Linked DNA regions of Homo sapiens. The protein of the gene in region 1 purifies or fractionates together with the protein of each later gene. This does not show direct contact. Each region holds a gene or a part of one and is shown on either strand. Other genes may lie near its edges.

Region 1 (3,500 bases):
ACCCTGCCCAGACATGGTGACCATGTATTCCCAAGTGTCTCCAGGGCCCTTTAGGTCACAACTGCAATATATGTAGTTCTTCTCTTTCTGGTAGCCAAACCACTAGGCAGATCAGCTTCATTCTGCCTCTGGAAAGTGCAGGCCCAGAGTGGCCAAGATAAGGTTGGAATCACCCATTCTCAGGCTTTATTGGGCTTTCCAATGAGACAGTGGACAAATTAAAGAGAAAAACACAGCCTATTATATATGAGACAGTTAATATAACTTGGGTGCTGATACTAGAAATTTCTGAAAAGGTGAGCCTCATCCCCATTTTCCCCTGAACACCTGGGCTCCCTACTTCCTAAGCTCTCAAATACCCAGAAAAGAGATCACTTCTACCTCCCTGTCAAGGTGTGCCCACTTGTATCCTGGTCGTACTGGCTGAGGATCCCACATCAACTCTTTAGGATGTAAGTACTAATAAGCTTCCCTACCTTCAAGGCAGAGAGGAGGCTACTGAGGGTCAGAGAGACCTGTCCAGCTTGTCCAGGTTCCTGTAAGCCTCCATCCCAAACTGCATTGGCTCTTTCTGTATGAGCTGGTGTGACCTGCCATGGGTTGTCCATGGACTGGAACATTATTATAACAGTGATCAATCTGTATTTCCCTTACGTTTTGCTCTGGTCAATGTGTCTGAAATTGCTAAAAAGCAGAAAGGATCTAAGTTTTGTCATTCTATTTGAATCTGGAGTGGCACGCAATGAATGGTTTTTAGGTTTCTGGAGGAGGAAGAGACCAAGCAGGTCCTGCCAGTCAAGTGAGAGATGATGTGCTGGGTTGGAACCAATTCTTGCTCACCTGAAGGGATAGCCAAATGCAACGATGATGGAGCTCACGTCCTTGGCTTCGTTGTTGCAGCGAACCATTGCTCCTGTCTCCCCGCTGTAGGAGCCACAGGACCCGAAGGCGAAAATAGCAAAGAGCTGAGAGAGAGTGAAGCCTCTTTGAGAGTCAGAAGGCCTCAACTGGCCAAAGTCGAGAACTAACCGTGACTCCCCGCAGGTGCAGACATTAAGTGCGGGAGTGGGGGAGAGTGAGGATCCCCTTTAATCAAGTTCTTCCTAGGTAGAAACCCATGGCTTCCATTTATCTTCCAGCCTCAGGCTGCTGGACCAAATAGCCAAATGAATACAAGGTTGACTGAGTGGTGTCTGCAAGGGAGATGAAGAGGCAGGAAATGGACAGTTGCCAGATCTCTCCATTGGGCATGACTTGGGGACCACAGGTAGCCTCCTTAAGATGACTAACACAAAACCTCTGCAATTCAGGCTTTAGGAAACTTCTAGCTTACAGATAGACTTGAATTTCCTTCCCAAGGGAGAGACACACTCAAAAAGATTCCCCTGCATCAACCTAGATCAGACATGCCTAGAACGCTTTTCATTTCTCCTTTGAACTAGTCATCTAATCTTGTTTCCTAGTTGCTAACTTCCAGTGGCTTCCTGCCTTGGTGGAGGTATAGCTGGAGGGGCCAGCTTCTACCAAGCCACCCCAGATGGGCCATACTACTGTCCCATAGTACTGACAGCCTAATTCCTCTTCCCCAAAAGGCACATGGCCTTCTAGCAATAGTGCTGGCTGGGCCAATGTGACAATCTTGGCTCAAGCCCAGAGAAAAGTACCCTCCACTTGCCTTATCAGTCTCCACTGTTTCCCCACTGGTATTTCCCTTTGTCATCTGTTGATGCTGCCATTTCTCAGTGTTAAGATCCAGAGGTGTCTCAGGTCACTCGAATTGTTTTCTTCTCCACCTTTCCTCACATTTTACTACACCTTCTCTCTCAAGTGAAATAAAATTTCCTCATCCTATGATTTTCAGATTTCTTTCTGGGAAACACACTTTGGTTAGAAAAGGAGGTGAGAGGCCAGGTGCGGTGGCTCACACCTGTAATCCCAGCACTTTGGGAGGCTGAGGCGGGTGGATCATTTGAGGTCAGGAGTTTGAGACCAACCTGGCCAACATGGTGAAACCCCATATCTACTAAAAATACAAAAATCAGCCTGGCGGTAGAGTGTCGCATGCCTGTAATCTCAGCTACTTGGGAGGCTGAGGCAGGAGAATCACTTGAACCCGGGAGGCGGAGGTTGCAGTGAGCCGAGATCGTGCCACTGCACTCCAGCCTGGCAACAGAATGAGACCTTGTCCCTCTCCCGCCCACCGCCAAAAAAAAAAAAAAAAAGAAAAGAAAAGAAAAGAAAAAAGAAAAGGAGGTGAGAAATTGAAATGTCTTATCCTCCACATCATCTGCTCAGATTGGATTTCCTGTGCACTTACCTTTGACTTGTACACAATGTCATGTTCTTATTAAGCAATGAGCTTATTCTCTTAATTGTTCACTCTCTGTATCTTTCTTCGAGACTCAGTGTCTTGGACATTAAGCACTTGGAAGACAGCTGATCTGTATGTCAGCCCTGCATCCAGAGTCTAGAATAGAAGCTATATGCACTTTATTTTGCCAATGCTTGTTAGCATTATGGAGTGAAAGGAGACCTGAACTAGGAGTATGGAAACCTAGGTTCCAGACCTGGTCCTGTCACTAATTAGCCAGGTGAGCTCTGATAAGTCACTCTGCTCTCTGAGTCTGTTTCCTCATCTTTTTTTTTTTTTTTAGATGGAGTCTTGCTCTGTCGCCCAGGCTGGAGTGTAGTGGCGCAATCTTGGCTCACTGCAAGCTGCACCTCCTGCGTTCACACCATTCTCCTGCCTCAGCCTGTTGAGTAGCTGGGACTATAGGCGCCCACCACCATGCCCAGCTAATTTTTTGTATTTTTTTTAGTAGAGACGGGTTTTCACCGTGTTAGCCAGGATGGTCTCGGTCTCCTGACCTTGTGATCCGCCCGCCTCAACCTCCCAAAGTGCTGGGATTATAGGCATGAGCCCAGCCTGTTTCCTCATCTTAAATGGAGGGGTTTGGAGTAGATAATCTAGAGGCCCTTTCCAGCCCTGGAACTCTCTCACTCTCTGAGAGTAACACTGTCAGTGTACTCTTGACTGGGCTTGCCAACAGCTGTGCTTTGCCCCTGCGAGGTGTCCAGTGCCACTGCCCCCGGCTTGCAGCGCCTGGCCTTGCAGATCTCCATGCTGGAGCCATTGGCCTCTCTCCAAATAATGGGCACCTCTCTGTTTTCAGGAGGTTTATTCCAGACAAATGAGAATTGTCTCCATGTTTAAAGATATCTGGGAAAGAAGACAGTAAAACCTCCCTCCAATGCCTAAATACCCTCCTCTCCTGAATTAAATGATGAAGACTGCAGTAGAGCCCTGTCTGCCCGCCTTCTTCACAGAGGTAGAGAAGAGTCACTCGAAGCCTCTGCATCATTACCCTTTACTTACTCAAAGTGGCCTCACCATTGTAATAGTGGAACTTCTCTAACTCTTCCTCATAGGAATTCGCTAATCTTTTGTCAGTTCTGTGGCCATCTGATTCCTCTTAGAAGTTTCTTTATTCCTCTTAGCT
Region 2 (3,500 bases), on another chromosome or scaffold:
TGCCTAAGATGACGATTCACAAGAGGCACGTGTGTCACTTCCCTCTGGAAAGCACCCTGCGTGCCGGCAATGCACGGGCAGCACAGACTGTCAGATAGATGAGTCCCTGCCTTTGCAGAACTCACTTTCTGGTAGGTAAAAACAAAACAAAACAAGTAACTTGCTGAAGATGCTGCCACCAGGACACAGTGCTGCCAGGACACAATGGAGGCACGGAGGCAGGGGTTCAACTCCACACTGGGGAGAGGCGGGAAGAGCCTCTTGTGGAATAAAAGAGTTTTAGTGCTTTCAGCTGCTTTAATATGTGAAACAAGGATGGTCATGATGCAGGGAGGGAAATTTTTTCTCCAAGATGATTGACAAGTGGGGATTAGTCACAGGACAGAGGTAAGGAGGTCTGGGGATTCTCAGGCAAGGGAAGCAGCTCTCAGAGTAATAAAAAAGAAAGCGGAGCTTGGGCAAAGCATCCTAAATACGTACTTTTGTAGGAAAAAAAAAAACTTCTTTAACTGAGCTTGAATGTTATTTTAGATTCATCCTGACCTTGAGCAAGTCACCTGCAAGTGTCCAACAACTGCACAAAAACCGGTCTCCCTTGCAGAGTCGACTGTGGTCAGTCCTTAATTTCTCCCAGTAATGAAGACATCAGGGCACATCACATTGTAGGAAGGTGGATCATTATTCTGATTTGAAACTGTTTCTCTTCCTACTTGGTCTAAACATACCTAGTGCTAAGGACATCCACTCTTTTTTTTTCTTTTTATAACATTTATCCATCTATGCTGCAGAAAAACTGGGAAGCACAAAGAAAAAAATTAAAATCACCCATCATCTTGCCTCCAGAGAGCCAGACATACACACACACGTATGTGTATGTAATGTTGGATAGAAACTGTGATGGTTATCCTATGCATTGTTTTAGAAAATAAAAAGGAGGTGATACATGGTACAGAGGCAGAGGTGCCTAGTGGTTACCACTCACTCTGTGAACTTGGGAAAACACGCATGTAGTTTTTGAGGATGAAATCTATGAACATATGTGTCTGGCACATCGTTTATGCTCAGTAACTATTACCCAGCATTTTTATTAAACACTTTCCAGTGTCTCTATGTTAGTCTGTTTTGTACTGCTATGAAGAAATACCTGAGACTGGATCATTTACAAAGAAAACAGGGGTTACTTTGGCTCTCAGTTCTGCAGCCTGTACAAGCACGGCACCATCATCTGCTCGGCCTCTGGTGAGGCCTCGGGAAGCTTTTACGCACAGTGGAAGGCCCGGGGGAGCCCACACATCTCATGGCGAGAGAGGAGGTGGTCCCAGGCTCTTTAAACAACCAACTCTGCCTGAACTAACAAAGTGAGAAGTCACTCACTACTGTGAGGACGACACAAAGCCATTCATAAGGGATCTGCCCCCATGACCTAAACATTCCTGCTAGGCCCACCTCCAACCCTGGAGGCCACATTTCAACATGAGGTTTGGAGGGAACAGGTGCAAACCATGTCAGTCACTAAGTATTCTTCCTCAACGGGACTTTGACATGGCTACATGCTGTTACATTGTATAGGCATTCCCCAATTTACTGAAATGTCTTCTACTGGGGCCATTTAGATTATTAAAAGTCCACCTTAAACAGGCATGGGAATGCACGTTAGATGTGCAGACAACAGAATGGCTACCTCAAAGCCAACCCGAAACTTCTGGATTCCTCGCCAAGGCTGCAGCAATAAAAACATGGTTTTGTTGATTCCAGAAAAGTCTGCTTAAGGTTGGACACTTCCACTCACCTACTGAGTAGAGAGAAGCCACATGGTGAGATATAAAATGACTCAGCCAGGACCCACAACTATGTAAACTCACAGACTGCTGTTACTCGCGTAGGGACCGCTGAACTCAGGAGCTGCCGTAACTTTTGATTCCTGTTAAGGATATGTCAGTGGAGACAAATCGCCCAGAGTCAATCATTATTTGCCAGGGACAGCCGATGTTCAAAGGACGACTTCGAGTGAGGTTAAAAACATGGACTTGGCCCTTTATAAAGAATTGCAGACTTAGACAAGTTTTTAGATACAGAATTCTGATCTTTACAGTGCTAAAATGGAGAAAATACACATTCAATTTCATGGGGTAATTCCACAGTCTTAATCTGAAACAGAAGTACAACAGGGCAACTCCTCACCTTAATTTTTGACCAAGAACAGCAACAAGGGATAGGTATGTATGAATCTACCTATCGACCTCTGGTTTTTACCTTGCCTAAACCATTTGTGGGGCAATTTTCTAACAAAAAAAAAAAAGAGAGAGAGAGAAACATCTTGGATTATATTGGTTTCACTGATAACTCATGTAAAATTTTAAAGATTTAAAAAACTAAAAAAAAAAAAAACATAGCTTAGAATAAACTAACTGATACTAAAATATTTTCACTCCATCCTAAAGGTCTATCTTAATAATTGGTAGGAAAATCAAATCCTAAAAATTGATATTTTGGAAAAAATAACTCATCTTGATAAGACAGTAAAAGATGAGGGTGGCTTTTTGTAATATCTAATATTTTCCTTGAAATATATGTATTACGGAGAGAGAGAGAGAGACACTTGGCCAAGTAAACTGAATCTAAATCATGTTTTGAAACTTGTCAATCTTCTCACTCTTGTTAGTAAATACATGCAGCAATTTTAATAAGCACACATCACTTTTTTTTTTTTTGAGACGGAGTCTCGCTGTGTCACCCAGGCTGGAGTGCAGTGACGCAATTTCAGCTCACTGCAACCTCCGCCTCCCAGGTTCAAGCAATTCTCCTGTCTCAGCCTCTGGAGTAGCTGGGACTACAGGCTCCTGCCACCACACCCGGCTAATTTTTGTATTTTTAGTAGAGACGGGATTTCACCAGATTGGTCAGGCTGGTCTTGAACTCCTGACCTCAGGTAATCCACCTGCCTCGGCCTCACAAAGTGTTGGGATTACAGGCGTGAGCCACACATTTGGAGACTAAAGAAAATGCTCTTCTTTGCCTGTCAGCATTCCGAAGAGACAAAGAAAAATTGGGAATGCTGGTGTTTATGCCATCGTGGTTATGCCCAGAGATAAACGTGTGGCAGCGGTGTTATGTCCTAACCTTTGGGCAGGTTATAGCACTTGGGGGTGGCCTGAAGAAAAGGCAAGGCAGAAAGTAGTAGAATAACAGGTAAGTAAACTTATCTGATGATTATCTAAAAGATTTAAGAAAAAGACCAAAATGTGTGGTTACACATAGGTAAGATTAGAGGTAACAAAAGAAGTGAAATTCTCCCAAAGAGCCTGAGCCAAATGGAAGCTGTGGATCCACTTCGGCGAAGTCAGTAGCAGAAATCTGTCCTCCATAACGCACTCCTTGCTAAGCCTCTACTCATGCGACCATGTGTGGGAAGTGACCAGCTGTAGTGCCCAGAGAGAGGGAGAAAGGTGGGGAGAGGATGTCGCGGGTCAGTAAGGAGGACCCAGAAGTGGGGATGGGCA

What was found. Proteins that work in one complex are often made in the same cells at the same time.
Region 2: the proteins of SYPL2 (region 1) and CYB5A purify together in Homo sapiens (affinity purification with mass spectrometry; one large-scale study listed by BioGRID and IntAct). This does not show direct contact.

What each region holds. Positions count from the first base shown.
Region 1 is NC_000001.11:109,473,046-109,476,545, reverse strand, and holds part of SYPL2 (synaptophysin-like protein 2), read right to left. Parts: intron 966-3,500; coding exon 841-965; intron 1-840.
Region 2 is NC_000018.10:74,264,464-74,267,963, forward strand, and holds part of CYB5A (cytochrome b5), read right to left. Parts: intron 1-3,500.